2 separate regions of the Homo sapiens genome follow, and region 2 is linked to region 1. Evidence: fine-mapped expression QTL. A gene starts in region 1. The other region holds a variant in brackets. All regions are shown on one strand. Distances are from middle to middle.

Region 1 (13,762 bases):
GTGGCCACAAATCCCAGCAGCGAGACGATCAAATTGATCAGCAGCGGCATGGGCAATTCCGAGAAGGCCCACATGGTGACCGGTCAGGGGCCCGGCTCCGCCGCCTCTTCAGGTAACGGGCAAGCTGAGCAGCAGTCCTGAGGCCTCAGCAGTATGGAGTGGCCGCTCCCCACAGGCAGGCTCTTCCCACACCAATCTGAGCAAAACCCAGCAACTCTGACTTGAGCCGCCGTCGGGACACCGGGGAACCTCTCTAAGGCAACCTATGTTCTGCCCCGCTGCACCCGCCTATCTACTGTTTCCGCCCGGATCTTGTTCGCTGAACAACCATTACTGCGGAAGGCGGCGGCCGCCATTTTTAATATGGGCATTAGAGGGTGGGGATGGAAGTGGAAGAGAAGTGTGATTCCAAATTTCATCCTATGTTCAAGAGTAGAATCACCGAGAGAGTACTGGAAACGCAATTAAAGAAAGGCAGCCAAGAACGGATACTTCCCTAACATTATGTTAAAGATGTACTACCCAGAGCGGAAATGCCAATTGCCCGGTTCCAAGATGAATGCCTCCTTGTACCACGTGTCTGACACCGCTCACATTCCGGTTCCACGTCAGTTTTAGCTCCGTCCGCCTCCATAGGTCAAGCTTAAAGGGCCCGTACCTCTCCCTTAATCTGGGATGCCTCCGGCTCCAGGAAGATGGCTATTGAAAGGCAGGGGGTGGGGAGGAGGGACGAGGGTGTGGAGACGCGCCTGTTTCTTGCAGGAAACCTGTTGCCAACATAGTCGGAAGCCAAGGTAAACACAACTCAGTTCCCGGAAACAAAGCTACGATTTGGAAGGATGGTGTAAATTCTAAAGCGTAGATCCTTGAAAAGCCCCTCCCACTCTGTTTTTCTTGTCCTCGATTCTGGTATTTTTTTCTCAGCATCCCACCCACCTTCTGCCCCAGCTGTAGCAGTTAGTTGCCCGGCAACCCAGCGCAGCACTTCACTGAGGGATTGGGAGTACCCTCAGGTCTTGGATTTAACTCGAGACTTCAGCTTGGCCGTGGATCACTGCATTGTACCTAGCTCCCACAAGGAGGAGATGGAGATTTCCAGGCTGAGGCTCTGGAAAGAGCTGAGGAGGGAGAGGAATCAGACCCACAACTGATTTCCTGTGAGTCTGAGGAACTCCCAGTCAGGTTTCTTCCTGTAGGTCACTGTGCATTTTGCTTGGCCTCCTGCAGGTTGCTGTGCATTTTGCTTGGCCTGTTCCCCTGCAAACAACAATTCACCAGCTTTTTTTTTTTTTTTTTTTTTTTTTTTTTGAGACAGAGTTTCGCTCTTGTTGCCCAGGCTGGAGTGCAATGGCGCGATCTCGGCTCACCGAAACCTCCACCTCCCAGGTTCAAGAGATTCTCCTGCCTCAGCCTCCCGAGTAGCTGGGATTACAGGCAGTAGCTGGAATTACAGGCATGCGCCACCACGCCCGGCTAATTTTGTATTTTTAGTAGAGACGGGATTTCCCTATGTTGGTCAGGCTGGTTTGGGACTCCCGACCTCAGGTGATCTGCCCGCCTTGGCCTCCCAAAATGCTGGGAGTACAGGCGTGAGCCACCACGCCCAGCCAGTTCACCAGCATCTTTATTACCTTTCATTCCCCGACAGGCTCTTAGGCGGCAAATGATTTCCATTTGTCAGAGAGGAAGTCACCACCAGTGAGTTAGGGAAAGGACTCCAATAGCCTAGCGCTTTGTCCACTCTTCCCTCTATGGCATGTTCCAGGAGTCAGGGTCATGTTGACCGTTTTTAAGCCGAAGATAGTTTCTTCTTTCCCTCAAAATCAGATGTGAGGCCGGGCGCAGTGGCTAACGTCTGTAATCCCAGCACTTTGGTAGGCGAAGGTGGGTGGCTCACTTGAGGTCAGGAGTTCGAGACCAGCCTGGCCAACACGGTGAAACCCCGTCTCTACTGAAAATACAAAAATTAGCCGGGTGTGGTGGCACATGCCTGTAATCTCAGCTACTCAGGAGGCTGAGGCAGGAGGATCGCTTGAACCTGGGATGAGGAGGTTGCAGTGAGCCGCGATCATGCCACTGCATCCCAGCCTGGGCAACAGAGGGGAAACTGTCTCAAAACAAACAAACAAACAAACTAAATCAGATGTGAAATGGCTTTTCTACTTGAAAATGGCTCTAATTAACAACAACAAAAACCCAGATATGTATAAAATACATAAATTTTCGTAATTTACTTGCTAGTATTCCACCAGATTTTCAGTACTTATCCCACTGCTATTATTTTTCTGTGTGTGTTGTGTGTATGCACGTGTGCCCCTTTTAAACTAGAAACTCCCGGGAGGCAAGTGTTTTCTCTTCCACAGGGTGTCCCCATGGGGCTAGGAACACAGACATCTGTGTACAAGGAAGGCATCATCACACATAATGAGGCTGAGGCTGAAAGGAGGACTGAGGGCAATAGGTGCATATGGAGGGAGCAATTAGTTGTGACCAGAGTAAGTGGTCTTGAGGAAGAGAAGTATCATTTCAGTAGATTATAAGAGTAGAAGGACCTTTCACAGGCAGCGACAGTGAGACACCAGAAGCTGGTGGAAAGGAGGAGCTTGTGGGATCCCAGAGGAGGCAGCATTCAGTTATCTTGTTGATGACGAGTATACTGAGACTCCCTGGAGGTCTGAGAGCCAGTCTGTATCTATTTCCTTTTTTATTAGGAGGCCAATCCTAATAAATCTTCCTTCCCAGCCTGGTATTGGGAAGCTTTATCTCTTTCTTCTCCAGAGATCATTAGCCCTCCCTACCACCACCCTCCTGGGGAGGGTGGAAGGATGTAATCAAAGACAAGAGAGACTAAGGATTCATCATCCACATATACATGTTACTATCAGAAAATGGTTACTAAGATACTTGTCAGATAATCTGAGTATTTTTGTTCCCATGATGATAAAGTCCCAGTTGATGATCAGACTAATCAGAAGGAGAAACAAACACATGACTTTTGGCTTCACTTGAAATTGTGTGCCTTCCCTGGTAAAAGTTCAAAGCGTTTTCCTGAATGCTGAAGCCGGCCCTAGGATTCACAGACCAGTTGACTTGTCAGTGGCCCTGGACTGAGCAGACAGTGTTTGAGATGCACACCTCTTCTAAGTAGCCTTGAGTGGCTCCCAATGAGCAAGGCCAATCCACTGAATGTGATTGCTAGACAAAGCCTGTCCCAAAAATGTTTCATAGTGCCACAAAGACAATGAGACCCCTCTGGATAGTCTGGGGCTGTGATACTTGCAGGACTCTATCTGTGGCTCTGTCCAGTCAGCTGAATCACTCTTTTTCCTTTTCCTCCCACCTCTCCCCTCTTAGTCTAGAAAAAAGTTGTTAATTAAAAGCAAGCCCCAGGATTTCCCATTCCACTGGTATGGCATGAATGATATTTCAAAAGACAGAAATGGCATAGAAATTCTCAAAGCATACTTGAGTATTTTCTGTTAGACTTCTTAAAATTACAAAGTTTGTTAATCCCTACTATGTGCATAGGAAGCTCTTCAGTACTGTGGAGGATACAAACTAATATAATTGCAGTTGCTTGCCCCCAGGGAGTCTACTTCAGCATATTTGGAGCATCTTGGTTGAATTTGAGGGAAAAGAGATGACTAAGACATGGTTCCCACCCCTAGGCAGCTTCCTGATGCATGGAAAAAGCAGACATATAAACAATCAGCTAGACTCTAAGGCAGAATGTAAGTGCTAGAGGTCTAAGTAATGGAAGAAAGAAGGAGGACTAGGCTGGGCACAGTGGCTCTCACCTGTAATCCCAGCACTTTGGGAGGCCGAGGCGGGAGGATCACCTGAGGTCAGGAGTTCGAGATCAGCCTGGCCAACATGGTGAAACCCTGTCTCTACTAAAAATAACAAAAATTAGCCAGGCATGATGGCGCATGCCTATAGTCCCAACTACTTGGTAGGCTGAGGCAGGAGAATCACTCAAACCTGGGAGGTGGAGGTTGCAGTGAGCCAAGATCTCGCTACTGCACCCCAGCCTGGGCAACAGTGACTTTCTGTCTCAAGAAAAGAGAAAAAAAAAAAAAAAAAGAGGGAGGACTAACTAGGGAGACTCATGTAACTAGGTAGACTCACAGTTCAGATACTGAATTGTGAAGCAGTATCTGGCAGCATAGGACCAAGCACTCAGTGGAGAAGTTGAGGGAATAAATCAAAGAAGTCAGAGAATGGAGATCACTAGGGGGTCTGAGGGTTCCTGAAGGATTCTTGGGGGAAGAGGGTCTTCATAGGGAAAGCTTCTACCTGGACAACTTCCTGCATAACCTGCTCCCCTAAACCCTAGCTGCTCTTCCCACTGACAGCTTCCTCCTGCATCCCTGGTTCTGGCCCTGAGTTCTCTCCTCCCTTGATTTCATGTCTTCTCCTCCCTTTGAGATTAGAAACCCAGACTCTAGGAATCTCCACTGATTTGGCAGTCCAGTGACAATGCATGGGCAGGGCCACAGGAGGTTACCTCATTCACCCCCACCTCTCCCCATCATTCCTTACAGGGAAATCTAGGGAGGCCCAGGCTACCCCACCACCTCCTCTGGCTCAGACAAACCTGTTGCTGACCTGTCAGTTTCTGTCTAGCCCTGCCATCCCACACTTCAGAAGGCATTGTTTATTCTCTTATTCTCATGTGCTCATTCCTCAGACAACTACTTGGGTTTGGGAGAAAGATACTTAACACCTTTCCATCCTACCTCTTTAAGAAAGGGACTGTGTGCCAAAGACCTTCCCACATGTATGAAGAAGGGGCTCTTGGGAGAATGTGAATTCCCCCAGGATTCCTTTGAATCCTTTTGCAGGTATTTCCTTCCCCTGTCCTCAGCAAGCATTGATGAGCCCCAGTCCTGTAGAGGTTGAATCAACTCCTTGAGTCTAGGAAAAGATGGCTTCTGAGGCCAGAGGTTGGGCAGTGTACCTACAGCACCATTTCTTGGGAGCTTGTTGGGATATCACATACTTAGAGTGGCAAGGTCTTGTGGCTGAATCTATTGATAGTCCAGTGCTACATTGCCAGCTCCCTTGTCATTACCACCCCCTCTACACGTGCTCCATAGGCAGGAGCTGTTACTATGGAAATACATTATTTTTAAAAACAGACACACAGCCTGGGCTTGGGAATCTCCAGAACAAACCTACACGAGCAAGGAGGTTAATGGGGCTGTTTCTGGGTCCAAGCTCCAAGAGGAAGGAGGGTGATGATGGTGGGGGGAATTCAAATTCGGTGTTCTACTCTCAACCTCTCCCAGCTTCAGGTTCTGCTTTCTCTCTGTTGACATCAGCTGGACCTCTGCCAGACACTTCTATCTGGGAGGGACGCTCTGCGTCTCCTTACCCTGGGCCTAGCTTCCCCCAGGAAATGGGAAGCTAGAAGTCGCTGAGTCTGGGGGTGTTGGGAGAAGGGGGCGGTGATTTCCACAGGGGTCACCTCCTTCTTAACCTCACAGGCGTCCGACCTGTGGAAATCTAACAAGCATAGGGGAAAGCAAAGGCAGCATCTTAGGTAAGTGAAGTTACTCTTGCCTTGAGCTGAGTGTGGGAGCACCGCGATTGCAAGATGGGGCGAGGTGATCAAAGATCCCGCCTATTTTCAACCCCGGAACCTCCTCCGCTCGCTGCTAGCCCTCCCGCCCTCCTCCAGCGAGGGAGCGCCAGGCTGTCCTGGCCCCGCCCGGCGCGGGTGCGGCTCCTTTAAGGGCGGGTGGGGGCGGGGCGCCGGCGGTGTTGTCAGTGTCAGCTCTGCGCACGCAGCCCTCCCGGAGCCGGTGCCGGCCCGCGAGCCCCAGCGTCTCTGCAGACCAGTCCCCTCCAGGGTCCGGCGGGGCCCGCGCGGTGGGAGGAGTCGGGCACTGGCCGGCGACTAACGGGTCCGACTGCTGACCAAGCTAGGAGAGACCCGGACCACGGAGACAGAGACCCCGGCATCGCGACCCCCGAGGACCTCCTCTCCTCGCCCTGTGGCACCCACTAGTCCTGGGCACTCAGCCGCGGAGAGCCCCCGACCCCGCGCGCCCAGCCCCGGGGGAGCCCACCTCCTCCCCGCGGCCCGCCCGGGCCATGCTCCCCCGGGGCAGCGGGTGAGCCCCAGCCGGGACCGGGATCGGAGCCCGCGCGGAGCATGGATCCGGGCTGGGGGCAGCGGGACGTGGGCTGGGCGGCCTTGCTGATCCTCTTCGCCGCCTCGCTGCTCACGGTGTTCGCCTGGCTGCTGCAATATGCCCGGGGCTTGTGGCTGGCGCGGGCCCGCGGGGACCGGGGCCCGGGACCCGCCTTAGCCGGGGAACCCGCGGGTTCCCTGCGGGAGCTGGGCGTGTGGCGCTCGCTGCTGCGGCTGCGGGCGACTCGGGCTGGCGCCGCCGAGGAGCCAGGAGTCCGGGGCCTCCTGGCGTCACTCTTCGCCTTCAAGTCTTTCCGGGAGAACTGGCAGCGGGCTTGGGTGCGAGCGCTGAACGAGCAGGCCTGCAGAAACGGGGTGAGTTGGACCAAGCGCTTGGGTGGTCCCTTCAGCCTTTCCTTCCAGGGGAGGGACTGACTGCTCGTGCTAGGAGGCCAGACGAGGGTGGGCATAAACTGGGGAACCCTATGGCTTCTCTTCCCCTCCCGGATCAGAGAAAAGGGTGCCGCTAAGGCTGGAGGTTGTAGAAATCCAACTGGGTCCCCAGACTTCCATTTCTGTGGGCAAGGTACTCTGGTTCCAAACCCATGCACAAGTTGCTGTTCTCATAGCAACGCTAATCCCTGTGCCTGAGGGCACTTCCGCCTTGCCTGGGTGCTGGTTGTGTTGGGGCATGGGAGACAGGTGCACCTGCAGAAGGAATTTGCCTGCTTCTCATGCCACCACACCCATTTAACATTTCATGCCCCAAATCCCTGGTGTGGTCAGGCAGATCCCCAAGGAGCCTGAATCACCCCCCTACCCGACAGTAATTTCACTGCTACAGTCAAACACATCCTTCTCCTCCATGCTGGCCTGTGGTTCACTGGGGGTTGGGGAGTGTTCAGGTGGAGAGCAGATTGACAGTGCCCCTACCAGTAGATGAGCTTGGAACTGCCCCTTGAGGGTCAGTCACAAACCAGTCCAGCCTACTTCCTCCCATTGCACCATGGGCATCTGGCCTCCCAGGAAGTGGGGCAGGAAGCGTGGTCATGAGATGGAGATAAGGTGGGAGGTAGAAGTCTCTCTTTTCTGGAGCTCCCTCCCATCCTGACCCAGCAATCTCTCCTTGCTCTCACAGTCCATCAGCTCCTTGCTCAGAGGGTTCTCTATTTCCAGCCACTATGAGTTTGGAGGCTTTACCTTACTAGTTCCCCAGATGCCGGAAACAGAAATGTCCACAAGAAATTGCTCTATTTACTCTGTCCAGCTGGCTGGCTAAAAGCCAGATGGCATCTGTCAGTTTACACCTTGAACCCACCTCTTCATCCAACTCTCCCTGTACCTTGTCCCTCGGTCAGAAGCAACTCCCCAGGATAGCTGACTCAACTGGACATTGGCCTCCCTTGCAGAGGGTGGGGAGATTGAGGTTTCAAGCATCCATCTCCCCATCTTCCTTGGCCTAGCCTTTGAATGAGACAGCTACCAGAGCAAAGGAGTTGGCTTCCCCTGGTTTGCCAAGCAAATGAACCCTATGGATTTGTTTCCTCCATCTCAAGACCCAAGGAAGAGTTGCCAGCCAATTCTGTGCCCCTTCCTCAATTCTGTGTCCGCACTGCTCTCCAGGTGGGGCTGCGGTAGGTTGCTTCCATTACTGTGGACGAATTAGGGAGCAGCTCTTTTGAGATCTAAGCAGCTTTCTGCTCTCTAATACCGTCCTGCTATCTGCCTTGAGGAATTAGCCAGGCCCCTGGACTCTTGGGTCCTCTGAGCTTGTATCTCTTCCCAGTCCCCCTGGTACGGATCCCCAAGGCCATGCTCATCTTCATCTCCAAGAATATGAAGCATCATACTCTTGAAGCCTCCACATCTTATTTATTTGGAAGAAGGCTTAGCTTCATTTCTGCAGCTCTTATCTTGAACAAGGTGGCTCTACCACCTTTACCGGGGCTTAGCCCTTTCCCTCTGCCCAGCTATTATATATAGGTGGCAACCAGCACCTTAACTTTTTTCTATGTAGGATTTTTTGTTTGTTTGTTATTTGTTTTTTTAGGGGGTAGGGTAGGGGATGAAAGGGATTGCAGGGAGAAGAAGAAGGAAGCTCTTGGTATTCCAGGAGGAAGCCAGGGTCTTCAGCTTAAGGTGATCTAGTCTCTGAGGTGGACTACCTCCCCATTGCTCAGTGGCTCCTAGCAGCTACAGGCCCCTGGAGAGGCAGGCCTTGAGGGGACTACCTCCTGTCTTAAAGCCCTGAGCCAAGGAGGGGCCAGAAGCCAGCCTGCAGCTGAGGCCTCCGCAGTGGCAGAGTCCAGCCAGCAACTGAGCAGGCCAACCCTGTGGGGGGCAGCTCCAGAGACCTGATCCAATGCCCACATTACTCCCTCAGAGCTCCATCCAAATCGCCTTTGAGGAGGTGCCCCAACTCCCACCCAGAGCCAGCATCAGTCATGTGACCTGCGTAGACCAATCTGAGCATACCATGGTAAGGGTCTGATGGGCACTGCCCTCTTTGGGGTCCAAGAAGGACTGACCCCAAGGGCTCCCTTTAGTCCAGAGGTTCTTAACCTGGAGTCTGTGAATGCCTTATGGATCTAAGGATTGGTTTCAGGAAGTCTGAGAATCCCATTGAAGTTATGTGCAAAATGTTGGATGTGTGTTTATATGCATTTTTCTGGGGAGAGGAGTCTTTGGCATTTATCTGATTCTTTTAGGGATTTATGATCCTGAAAACATGAAGTCCTTAGGAAAACGGAAGTGGGGAGGGGTCTGCTGAACTATTACAGGGCAGTTCAAAGCAGGGTGAGCACCCTTCCCCCACATCTGACCCACCTCGCCGGTCTCAGGTGCTGCGTTGCCAGCTCTCTGCTGAGGAGGTGCGGTTCCCAGTCTCTGTGACCCAGCAGTCCCCCGCTGCCGTCTCCATGGAGACCTACCACGTCACTCTGACACTGCCACCAACACAGGTAGAAGGGGATGTGGGAAACTGAGTTGGGCAGGGGCGGTTCCATTGGCTCAGCTTCTTCCATTTGTTTCCTCTCTGGGATGGAATTCAGGAAGGGAGAGTCCTCGAATTAGGAGTCCTTGGGTAAATGGGGCAAGTCAGCCCAGTCACTTTGTTCCTGTCTGTAGTTGGAAGTCAACCTGGAGGAAATCCCTGGTGAGGGGCTGCTCATATCCTGGGCCTTCACTGATCGCCCAGATCTCAGCCTAACGGTGCTTCCCAAGCTTCAGGCCAGGGAGGTAAGGAGGCAGAGCTGGCAGAGAAGAGGCAGAACGGGGAGGGAGGCAGAGGTGGGGGATCCACCTCCTTGTTGTTCCCTTCTTCTCTCTGCAGAGAGGTGAAGAACAAGTGGAGCTCTCCACAATTGAGGAACTGATCAAGGATGCCATAGTCAGCACCCAGCCAGCCATGATGGTCAACCTCAGGGCTTGCTCTGCCCCAGGAGGCCTGGTGAGTTGGCACCCAAAGCAAAAGATTTGCATGCACCTTGTTCCTAGGGTGCTATGTCAGGATTCTTGCTCTTTGGACCTTCTTCTGCTCTTAGGTACCCAGTGAGAAGCCACCCATGATGCCCCAGGCTCAGCCAGCCATCCCCAGACCTAACCGGTTATTCCTACGGCAGCTTCGGGCATCTCACTTGGGAAATGAGCTGGAAGGTGAGAGCTGGAAGTGGCTGCGGGACTGCCAAGGCTATGGTTGGTTGCAGATGCTCTCTGCCCCTCTGCCAAGGGTACAGCCTCTTTATTCTGCAGTGACTTCCCATCTCTGATCTGAGCATCTTCTAACTTCTGGTTCATCACAGGCACCGAGGAACTGTGCTGTGTAGCTGAACTCGACAACCCCATGCAGCAGAAGTGGACCAAGCCCGCGAGGGCTGGATCCGAGGTGGAGTGGACAGAAGACCTGGCACTGTAAGGAGTAACCCTGCCCCGACCCCATGCTCCAGAGCAGAGAGGATCAAACCTTTCCAGCACAGTCCTTGCAGGAATCAGCTCTGTTTTCAGTAGCCTTTGGCGTGAGCTCCTATTGTATGCCAGGCCCTGGCGTGGGTCTTAGGGATACAGACTTGACCAAGATACAGCCCCCACCCCTGGGTCAATGACAAGCTTGAGGCAGAGACAGGTGTACATAAAGAAGATGGTAAAACCGCTCCAGTTGAGGTTTATGTAATGTGCCGTCAGAGTGCCTAGGTGGGGGGGAGATTAATTCCCATGAGGGAATAAGGATCAGAGTAGGCTTCATGGAGGAGATGACATTTAAACCACACTTTAGAGCAAGAGTAGGATTTCATCAGAGTGTGAAAGTATTCTCGGCAGAGGGAAGAGCTGGAGCAAATGAAAGAGGGTGGCTTGCAACTGAGAGACTGGCAAGACAGGAAGAGCAGGACCAGGGAGGATTTGAATGCATAGCTGAGAAGCATGGTTTCCACTCAGGCCCTGTCCCTTTCTCTTGGGACGAGAGAGAATTTGGAGGCCAGGAGAATCTGATTGGAGCATTTATGCCGTTTTATTTATGTACACAGCTCTCTGCCTCTGGCCTGTGATCCACTCAAGTGTGGGTTCAGCTTGCTAATTTTCTCCTTCCTGCCCCATCTCCTCTTGTCCCACAGGGATCTGGGCCCCCAGAGCCGGGAGCTGACCCTCAAAGTGCTGAGGAGCAGCAGCTGTGGAGACAGTAAGTGAGGGGTGGGAGGGGCACCCCTGGGTGGGTACAGAGTGGGGTCTGGCCATGGGCCCAGCTCACAGTGCCATCCCTTTCCCCAGCCGAACTCCTAGGCCAGGCCACACTGCCTGTGGGCTCCCCCTCCAGACCACTGTCTCGAAGACAGTTGTGCCCACTCACCCCAGGGCCAGGGAAAGCCCTGGGACCAGCAGCCACCATGGCAGTGGAGGTGAGAAGCTGACCCCTGGGGTAGGTGGGAGGACACAGGGGATGGGCAGTCTCCGAGGCTCTGTCTCTTCTCTCTCCCACCCCTGGGCAGCTTCACTATGAGGAGGGCTCTCCCCGGAACCTGGGTACTCCCACCTCCTCCACTCCACGCCCCAGCATCACACCTACCAAGAAGATTGAGCTTGACCGGACCATCATGCCCGATGGCACCATTGTCACCACAGTCACCACTGTCCAGTCCCGGCCCCGTATAGACGGCAAATTAGGTAAAGAGAAGGAGCCTGGGAGCCCAGCTCTAGCCAGGGGCCCGGGACTGCAGACCCAAGGCAGGACAGTGAAAGAGGAGAGAGCCTTAATTCCAACTCCCCCTGTTTTCAGACATTCCATTCCAGTCCTACCACATCTTCCTCCCAATCTTTGTCTCTTCCAAACTTTCCCTTACCTCCTGCCATTTCCCCAGCAATTCCTCTCACTCTGCCACCCTTCTGGATCCTCCTGCCCCTCCTCATACAGGACTGTTGCACTCCTACCTTCCAGCTTCCCCTCTGGCTTTTCACAGGTGTCCTTAGCCCCAGCTGACTATAATTGTCCATCCTGCTACCCTCAGCCCTCCAGCACCCCCTGGGGTCCTCCAACAAACCCAGAGGCCTCTGTGGCATTTCTACCCCACTCAGTGGGCCCCCATGGCACTTCTGCCATTATAGGGGCCCCACTGAATTGCCCCAACTTCAGGGAGCCCCAGTACCCCCTCTGTCCCCGCTCCATATTTTCATAGCATCTCCCCACACCTTCAGCAGGCCCCATGGCACTTTCCTACACTCCCATTAGCTCCTGGGGTGTCTTTTAGTCCCCACGGCATCTTCCTAATCACCCTTGTGATTAATCACCCTTTAATCATTCTTGCCCTCTGAGTCACCCAAAGTCTGCATCTCAACAAAGACAGTAGGGGTGGGGGCCACTCTGAAGCAACTCCCAGCTCACTGACCCTCCCCCACCCACCAGACTCCCCCTCCCGCTCCCCGTCCAAGGTGGAGGTGACCGAGAAGACGACAACTGTGCTGAGTGAGAGCAGTGGCCCCAGCAATACCTCCCATAGCAGCAGCCGTGAGTGGGGAATGGGGTGCATGAGTGTGGGTTGGCCCTGGTGCCCCAGCATCAAAAAGTACTCTGGGTGGGATAGGAGGAGTTCCAATCCAAGAAAGAGCCAGGGAGAAGTCAGGTTATTCATTCTCTGCACCCCTAGCAGGGGACAGCCACCTTTCCAACGGCTTGGACCCTGTAGCAGAGACAGCGATTCGCCAGCTGACAGAGCCCAGTGGGCGGGTGGCCAAGAAGACACCCACCAAGCGCAGCACTCTCATCATCTCTGGTGTTTCCAAGGTAACAGGGCTCTGGGGAGAGGAGCTGGGATGGGGAGAAAGCCCTAATGGGTCGGTCACTCCTGCCCATTAAAACCCGTCCCTCCTGCCAGGTGCCCATTGCTCAGGACGAGTTGGCGCTATCCCTGGGCTATGCGGCATCCCTGGAAGCCTCAGTGCAGGATGATGCAGGGACCAGCGGAGGCCCCTCTTCACCTCCCTCAGACCCACCAGCCATGTCTCCAGGACCGCTAGATGCCCTCTCTAGTCCCACAAGTGTCCAGGAAGCAGACGAGACAACCCGTTCGGATATTTCTGAGAGGCCATCTGTGGATGATATTGAGTCGGAAACGGGGTCCACTGGTGCCCTGGAGACCCGCAGCCTCAAGGATCACAAAGGTAGGGGGACGTTGGCAGGGTGCCCCTCATCTCTTCTTTTATACACATATCATGACCTGGGGGACCTCGAGCCAGTGTGCCTTCTCCTTCCTCCCCTAAGAGATAGCCGGATTCCCAGCCTAGTTCAGCCAAGCTAGCCTAGAGGGGGATCTTGGTGCCTTGGTTCCTGGCCTAGATCTGACATGCTTGTGATAGGAAGGGATGCCAAATTATTTCCCTTTACCTCCATTGTTCTTTCTTCCTGAGTCTAAGTGCCATTTTTCCTGCCCTTTAAAAAAAAATTATAAAAATTTATTCCTAGGCAGGGTGTGGTGGCTCACACCGGCACTTTGGGAGGCCAAGGCGGGTGGCTTACCTGAGTCCAGGAGTTCAAGACTAGCCTGGGCAACATGGCGAGACCCCATCTCTACTAAAAATACAATAAATTGGCTGGGCGTAGTGGCACACACCTGTAATCTCAGCTACTCAGGGGGCTGAGGAGGGAGGATTCCTTGAGCCTGGGAGGTTGAGGTTCAAGGAGGTTGAAGCAGTGAGCCGTGATTGTGCCACTGCACTCCAGCCTGGGTGACAGAGTGAGACCCTGTCTCAAAAAAAATTTTTTTTTTCCATGGCTGGGCACGGTGGTTAATGCCTGTAATCCTAGCACTTTGGGAGGCCAAAGCGGGTGGATCACAAGGTCAGGAGTTCAAGACCAGCCTGGCCAACATGGGTAAACCCCATCTCTACTAAAAATACAAACATTAGCCAGACGTGGTGGCAGGCGCCTATAATCCCAGCTACTTGGGAGGCTGAGGCAGGAGAATCGCTTGAACTGGGGGGTTGGAGGTTGCAGTGAGCCCAGATCATGACACTGCACTCCAGCCTGGGTGACAGAGTGAGACTCTGTCTCAAAAAAAAAAAAAAAAAAAAAAAATTCTTCCCTTTCAATCTGCACCCTCTCCCCAATGAGTATAAGAAATCCTACCCTTGGATTATCCA
Region 2 (8,000 bases), 130 kb after region 1:
CCCAGGCTGGAGTGCAGTGGTGCGATCTCAGCCTCCAGGTTCAAGTGATTCTCCTGTCTCAGCCTCCTGACTAGCTGGGATTATAGATGTGCACCACCATGCCTGATTAATTTTTGTGTTTTTAGTAGAGATGGGGTTTCACCATCTTGGCCAGGCTGGTCTCGAACTCCTGACTTCAGGTGATCTGCCCGCTTTGGCCTCACAAGGTGCTGGGATTACAGATGTGAGCCATCACGCCTGGCCCTCTTTTGTGTTAATTAAATACCAGAAACTATAGGCTATCCTGCATATTGTTAGCTTAGCTGTCGTAAATTACATACTGGGAGAGAAATAAGTTAACTGTATGTGTGGATGTAATTGTGTTTTATTTTGTTCAATTTGAACTAAATATTAACTCATCTAGAATGAGTAATAAAATAATTCCACTAGAATTTTTTAGTGAGTAAATTATTCTTGAGTAGTGACTTGAATTAGAAGGAACAGTATTTCTGAAGTCATCTGGTTACCATGCATGACTCTAGCAGTAACATACTAAATGGTGTCCTTGTTGTCTACCTTTCCTTTGGGCCTGTTGGCCTAGATTCTGGCAACCCTAGCTTTCAATTAAAATTTTATGCACATGATTATCCATATTACCGTTATTGCAACAAATTACTCAGGTGTAGTCTGAGTAATGGACTCAAAATGTCCATCTTTTCTTTCTTTCTTTCTTTTGTTTTGTTTTGTTTTGTTTGAGACGGAGTCTTGCTGTTGTCACCCAGGCTGGAGTGCAGTGGTGTGATCTTGGCTCACCGCAACCTCCGCCTCTTGGGTTCAAGTGATTCTTCTGTCTCAGCCTCCTTAGTAGCTGGGATTACAAGCATGCACCGCTGTGCCCGGCTAATTTTTGTATTTTTAGTAGAGATGGTGTTTTGCCATGTTGGCAAGCTGGTGTTGAACTCCTGACCTCAGGGGATCCGCCTGCCTCAGCCTCCCAAAGTGTTGGGATTACAGTTGAGAGCCACTTCAGCTGGCCTGTCCATCTTTTCTTAAAAAGATTCTGAGTGAATTCAATCCGTAAGAGCCTTTGTAACTTCTCGTTTATTTGGAAGTGAACTTTATTCCTTTTAAATATTCAGATTTTGTAACTTTTGTTAAAACCTCGACTGTATGGACCTTTTAGCTAACTAGTCATTTTGTATTGTATTGCTGAGTTTCTAAAAAATAATTTTAATTCATGAGGTACCAAAACTTAAAAATTTTGTTTACCATGTACGTGAACTAGGTTCTGGTTCTAGGAGGTGAAAAGGAAAGTTAAGCATTCAAATTTGAGGTAATATGACAAATGCATTAATAGAGATATGTACAAAATTCTGTTGGGAGCCGGGCACAGTGACATGCACCTGTAATTCTAGCTACTCAGAAGACTGAGGTGGGAGGATTATTTCAGCACAAGAAATTGAGACCAGCCTGGGCAACACAGCGAGAACTCTTCTTAAAATAAATGAAACATTTAAAAAGTGCTGTGCGAATACAGTTTTGTCCAGTGGCATTAGAGAAGGTGGCATAGAGGACTTGTAATTTGAATTAGAGTTTGAAGGATAAATAGGAATTTTCTAGGCAGAGAAGTCAAGAAAAGTCTTTTAACACAGTGGCATGAAAATGGAGGCTCTGGTATGTTTAAAATGAGAAGTTTGGTTTGGTTAGAATTGTGGGAGACAGATACGCTGGAAAGACGGGTTGAAGTCAGATTGTAAAGGGCTGTTTTTTGACCTCTAGACTTTCTCTTATAGATGATAGGCTGTCATAGAACAGGTTTATTTTAAAGAGCATTTCTTTTTTCTATTTTTTTTCTTTTTTTTGAGATGGAGTCTCACTCTGTTGCCCAGGTTGGAGTGCAAAGGAGTGATATTGGCTCACTGCAAACTCTGCCTCCCGCATTCAAACAATTCTCTTGCCTCAGCCTCCCGAGTAGCTGGGATTACAGGTGTGTGCATCATGCTGGGCTGATTTTTTTGTATTTTTAGTAGTGACAGGGTTTCACCATATTGGCTTGGCTGGTCTCAAACTCCTGGCCTCAAGTGATCCGCCCGCCTTGGCCTCTATTTTATATGTATTCTCACAATAAAGTGTGCTAGAGAAAAGAAAATGTTACTAAAATCATAAGGAAGATAAAACATTTATTATTCAGTAAGTGGAAATGGATCCTCATAAAGGTCTTCATCCTCATTGTCTTCAGGTTGAATAGGCTGAGGAGGAGGAGTAGGAAGAGGAGGGGTTGGCTGCTGTCTTGGTACTGAAAATTCCAGTACTGGTTTTTCTGTGGTAGAGGCAGAATAGGTGGAGGGGGTGGAAGGGGAGGCAGGAGAGGCAGGCACACTTGGTGTGACTTATAATGAAAAAAAAGTCTGTGTATAAGTGAATCCACACAGTTAAACCCATGTTGTTAAGGCTCAACTATATCTAATTTGCCGTTACCAAATGACTTCAGTACATGTTGACAAGTTCTTTTGCCTCTTTTTAAACCTCACTGTCAGTGTGCCTGTCTGTATCAATTTTATTCCCCCTAACATGAGGCTTTTAATATTTTATGGATTTGATTTGTACAAATTATATGTAAAATGAGAGTAAACAGATTTCAAGTGAGAATCAAGGAGTTCATTTTTTCAATCAACTTTCTCAGGTTGAAAGGGTTTTTGTAAATAGGGAAAAATATATAGGGTTTTTGCGAATGATCTTTGTGGTCTTTTTGATTACTTAGAGGTTTTTTTTTCCTATTCAGTTTTTAAATTGAGATATAATTCACATACCATAAAATTTGCCCTTTTAAAGTGTACAATTTAGTGGTTTTTAGTGTATTCGCAAAGTCAGGCAACCATCACCCCTCTGTAATTCCAGAACATTTTCACCCCCCAACAGGAAACCCCACTCCCATTAGCAGTCACTCTTTGTTCCTCTCTCTGGATCTCCCCTGGCGCTTGGTAATCACTAATACCTGCTTTCTGTCTATGTGGATTTGCCTGCTCTGGACGTTTCGTGTTAAGTGGAATCACATAACGGTGGCCTTTTGTGGTTTTTTTTTGTGTGTCTTCTTTCGCTTAGAATGTTTTTACAATTCACCCATATTGTAGCATGTATTGGTACCTCATTCCTTTTTATGGCTAAGTCATATTTCAATGTATGGATATACCATATTTTGTTTATGATATTTTTGTCATTTCTACTTTTTGGCTACTACTGAATAATGTTGCTATGATTATGTGCCAGTTTTTGTATGGCTATAGCCATATAAACATATATACATATATGTTTTCACTTCTTTTGAGTATATATATATATATATATATATATATACCCATAGGAGTGGAATTGCTGAGTCATATGGTAATTCTGTGTTCAACTTTTGAGTAACCTCCAAACTATTTCCACAGTAGCTGTACCATTTTTCTTTCCCCTAGCAATGTATGTGGGTTCTGATTTTTTGCTAACAATTGCTATTGACTTTTTTTATTACAGCTATTCTACTAGGGGTAAAGTGGTGTCTTGAGGTTTTGAAATGCATGTGAATACTTTTTCATGTGCCTCTTGGATGTTTGTATATAGTTGTCCCCCTTTATCCTCAGTTTAACCTTCCTTGGATTCAGTTACTGGCAGTCAACCATGGTTTGAAAATATTAAATGGAAAATTCTAGAAATAATTCATAAATTTTGAATTGCATGCCCTTCAGAGTAGTGTGATGTAATTTCACAACGTTCTACTTTATCCCAGCTGGGATGCAAAGCATCCCTTTGTACAGCATCTCCATGCTGTATACACTAGCACCTATTAGTCACCTAGTAGCTATCTTAGTTATCAGAGTGAGAAAACATAATATACACAGGGTTCAGTACTATCTGTGGTTTCAGGCATCTGCACATCTTGGAATGCAAAGGGGGACTATTTATCTTCTTTGGAGAAACATCTATTCAAATCCTTTGCCCATTTTAAA[G/A]TTGCATTATTTGTCTTTTCATTGTTGAGTTGTAAGATTTTCCTTCATATTCTGGATGCTAGACCAGATACATGATTTGCAAAACTTTACTCCCATTCTGTGGGTCATCTTTTCACTTTCTTAACAGTATGCCTTGAATCACAAAAGTTTTTAATTATGGTGAAGACCAATATTTATTTGGTTTTTGTACTTTTAAGAAATTATTGCCTAATTCAAGGTCATGAGGCCTGTTTTTTCCTATTTTATAGTTTTACCTCTTGTATTTAGGTCTTTGATCCATTTTTGAGTTAATTTTTGTATATGGTATGAGGTAGAGGTCCAACTTGATTCTCTTGCATGTGGATATCCCTTTGTCTCAGCACCATCTGTTGAAAAGTCTGTCCTTTTTAATTGCATGGACTTGTTGCCATTTTAGGAAGGAAGTAAGTTGACCATAAGTGTAAGGGTTTATTTCTGGACTCTCAGTTTCATTTCATTAATCTACATATCTATCTTAATGCTAGTACCACACCATCTTGATTACTGTAGCTTTGTACTAAAGCTTTGGAATCAAGAAGTGTGAGTTCCTCAGCTTTGTTTTTCAAGATTGTTTTGGCTGCTATTCTGGATCCATTGTATTTCTTTTTTTTTTGAGATGAAGTCTCACTCTGTCACCCAGGCTGGAGTGCAGTGGCGCCATCTTGGCTCACTGCAACCTCTTCTTGCCAGGTTCAAGCGAGTCTCCTGCCTCAGCCTCCTGAGTAGCTGGGATTACAGGTGTGCACCAACAATCCCAGCTAATTTTTGCATTTTCACTAGAGACGGGGTTTCACCATGTTGGTCAGGCTGGTCTTGAACTCCTGACCTCAAGTGATCTGCCCACTGCAGCCTCCCAAAATGCTGGCAGGTGTGAGCCACTGTGCCCAGCCTCCCTTGAATTTCTGCATGAATTTAGAATCAGCCTGTCAATTTGATCCCAAATACAATTTTTTTTTTTTTAATAGATAGAGTCTTGCTCCGTCACCCAGGCTGGAGTACAGTGGCATGACCTTGGCTCTGCCTCCCGGGTTCAAGCGATTCTCCTGCCTCAGCCTCCTGAGTAGCTGGGATTACAGACATGCACCACAACCCCTGGCTAAGTTTTCTATTTTTAGTAGGGATGGGGCTTTACCATGTTGGCCAGGCTGGTCTCGAACTCCTGGCCTCATGTGACCCGCCCGCCTCGGCCTCCCAAAGTGCCGGGATTGCAGGAGTGAGCCACTGTGCCCGACCCCTAAATACAATGTTTTCTTATCAAAAAGAGCAGCAGGGGCTGGGTGTGGTGGTTCACACCTGTAATGCCAGCACTTTGGGAGGCCAAGGTAGGTGGATCACCTGAGATCAGGAGTTTGAGACCAGCCTGGCCGGTGTGGTGAAATCCCGTCTCTACTAAAAATACAAAAAATTAGCCAGGTGTGCTGGCGAGTACCTCTAATTTCAGCTACTCTGGAGGCTGAGGCAGGAGAATCTCTTGAACCCAGGAGGCGGAGGATGCAGTGAGCCGAGATCAAGCCACTGCACTCCAGGCTGGGCAACGGAGCGAGAGTTCATCTCAAGTAAACAAGAGCAGCAGGAATTTTGGTAGATATTGTATTAGATCTGCCGATCATTTTGGGGATTACTGCCATCTTAACAATACTGTTTTCCGCTACATGAATACTGGATATATTTCCACTTATATTTTTATTCATTTTTGTCTTTGTTGTTTTAGACAGAGTCTCACTCTGTTGTTGCCCAGGCTGGAGTACAGTGACTCAATCTCAGCTCACTGCAACCTTCACCTCCCAAGCTCAGGTGATCCTCCCACCTCAGTCTCCCTAGTAGCTGGGACCACAGGTGCGCACCATCATGCCTGGCTAATTTTTGTATTTTTTTGTAGACACGAGGTTTCGTCGTGTTGCCCATGCCGGTCTCAAACTCCTGGGCTCAAGCAATCTGCCCATCTCCACCTCACAAAGTGCTGGGATTATAGGCATGAGCCACCTTGCCTGGCCTTACTTATATCTTCTTTAATGTATTTCAGTAATGTTTTGTAGTTTTCAGTGTTCAAGTTTTTTGCCTTCTTAGTTAAGTTTATTCCTATTTTGTTCATTTTGATGCTATTGTAAATGGAATTGTTAATTTTAGGTTCATATATAGAAACATAGTTGACTTCTGTATGTTGATCTGGTACTCCACAACTTTGCAGAACTTACTTATTGGCTCTAGTAGCTTTTTAGTAGGTTCCTTAGGCTTTCCTAGATACCAGATCATGTCACATGCAATTAGAGGTAGTTTTACTTCTTCCTTTTCTTTCTGCATGCATTTTATCTCTTTTTCTTGCCTAATTATTCTTGGCTATGTTGAATAGGAATATCAGGAGTGGCCATCTTTGTCTTTTTGGTATTGAGGAGGAAAATGTTCAGCCTTTCACCATTGAGTATATTAGCTGTGAGATTTTTGTAAAGGCTTTTCATCAGGTTAAAGAAGTTTCCTTACATGTCTTGTTTTTCAGTTTTTGGTTGTTGTTTTTTTTTTGCTTTTTTGTTTTATCATAAACAGTTGTTAGAGACCTTTTATGTTTCATTCGTGGTTTTTCTTTTTTTGATAGGTGAGTTGTGGACAGCTGAGTGCTAGTTAAATATAGTACATAGAAAGAATCTTGAAAAGAAAACTAGTTTGAATAAGCCAAAGTAGAAACTTGTTGACTCATAAAATTCTAGAAAAAATGAGTATCTTAAATTGCACTAAAGAGGCTGGGCATGGTGGCTCACGCCTGTAATGCCAGCACTTTGGGAGGCTGAGGTGGGCAGATCACTTGAGGTCAGGAGTTGGAGACCAGCCTGGCCAACATAGTGAAACCCCATATCTACTAAAAAATTCAAAACAATTAGCTGGACATGGTGGCATATACCTGTAATCCCAGCTGCTTGGGAGGCTAAGGCACGAGAATTGCTTGAACTCGGTTGGTGGAGGTTTGCGGTGAGCTGAGATCATGCCCCTGCACTCCAGCCTGGGTGACAGGGTGAGACTGTTACCAATTAAAAAAAAAAAGAAAAAAAAGAAAGAAAAAGAAAAATTGCACTAAAGGCAAGAATGCAGGTAAGCCTCAGGAACAACTGAAACCAGGATTGAAATGTTGCCAGGACTCTGTCTGTTCTCTTTGATTCTTCTGGTATTACTTCCATACTCAGTGCAGATTAATGCGTAAATTGCAGAAAAGTTTGGTCTCTATTACACCCAAGTTTTATATCTTAAGAGTTTCTGCTGTAGCAGAAGATATGACTCTTAGTTCCAGTTTTCACTTTGGCTTGGTATAGAGCATTTGATTGTCCCTGGACCAACCTCTGGAAGGAGAGGTTAAGTACTGGGATTAGTACAGCAGAGGCCAGTTGCAGACCTCTAGACTAATCGACTGTGGCTTGGGAGACATATGTGTTCCTTCATAGCCATGTGCATGGGGGAGTTTGTTCCTAGTTTTTTGGGTGTTGAGGAGCCAGTCTCTTAAATCTTCTCTATAAGAGTGTACATAATTGGCTGGGTGCAGTGGCTCATGCCTGTAATGCCAGCACTTGGGGAGGCTGAGGTGGGTGGATCACCTGAGGTCAGGAGTTCAAGACCAGCCTGGCTAACATCGTGAAACCCCGTCTCTACTAAAAATACAAAAATTAGCCAGGTGTGGTAGCGGGCACCTGTAATCCCAGCTACTCGGGAGGCTGAGGCAGGAGAATCACTTGAACCTGGGAGGTGGAGGTTGCAGAGCCGAGATTGTGCCACTGCACTCTAGCCTGGGCGACAGAGTTAGATTCCATCTCAAAAATAAAAAATAAAAAATAAAAAAGAATGTACATAATTCTATCTATTATTGTATAGTATTGTTGCTTCATGATTTTATTTTAGTTATTATTAGCTGGTTTAAGTTCTCCAAAGATAAATTTGCCCTCATTTTTCTTAGACTTTATAAAAAATGAATTAAGTAAAACCATAAGCCTCTGTTTTGCCTTTGATCTTTCTGGGTTTTGCACCTGTTTTCAT

Which allele goes with the higher level. Positions count from the first base shown, and alleles are read on the strand shown. Sizes are in standard deviations (SD) of each study's normalised expression.
For the expression in sun-exposed skin of the gene that starts at base 5,763 in region 1, allele A in region 2 goes with a lower level than allele G (moderate effect, 0.47 SD a copy in GTEx).

Evidence for each region.
Region 2: its variant is fine-mapped to the expression of C2CD2L in sun-exposed skin (GTEx, PIP 0.94).

The regions. Positions count from the first base shown.
Region 1 is chr11:119,101,582-119,115,343 of GRCh38, forward strand. It overlaps C2CD2L (C2CD2 like), which reads left to right and starts at 5,763. Exons shown (of 14, transcript NM_001290474.2): 1 at 5,763-6,514; 2 at 8,523-8,618; 3 at 8,980-9,099; 4 at 9,266-9,376; 5 at 9,471-9,587; 6 at 9,682-9,793; 7 at 9,940-10,048; 8 at 10,747-10,811; 9 at 10,901-11,028; 10 at 11,119-11,293; 11 at 12,030-12,131; 12 at 12,274-12,407; 13 at 12,499-12,784. The coding sequence starts at 6,161. DPAGT1 (dolichyl-phosphate N-acetylglucosaminephosphotransferase 1) reads right to left here and starts at 272. Exons shown (of 9, transcript NM_001382.4): 1 at 1-272. The coding sequence starts at 74. RefSeq lists enhancers at 1-113, 1-1,124, 307-616, 828-1,540 and silencers at 5,598-6,047, 6,118-6,397.
Region 2 is chr11:119,233,291-119,241,290 of GRCh38, forward strand. All of the region lies in intron 2 of CBL (Cbl proto-oncogene), which reads left to right. Among named protein-coding and RNA genes, the nearest start is that of CBL, 31 kb to the left of the region's middle. The variant G/A (reference allele first, on the strand shown) is at 3,969.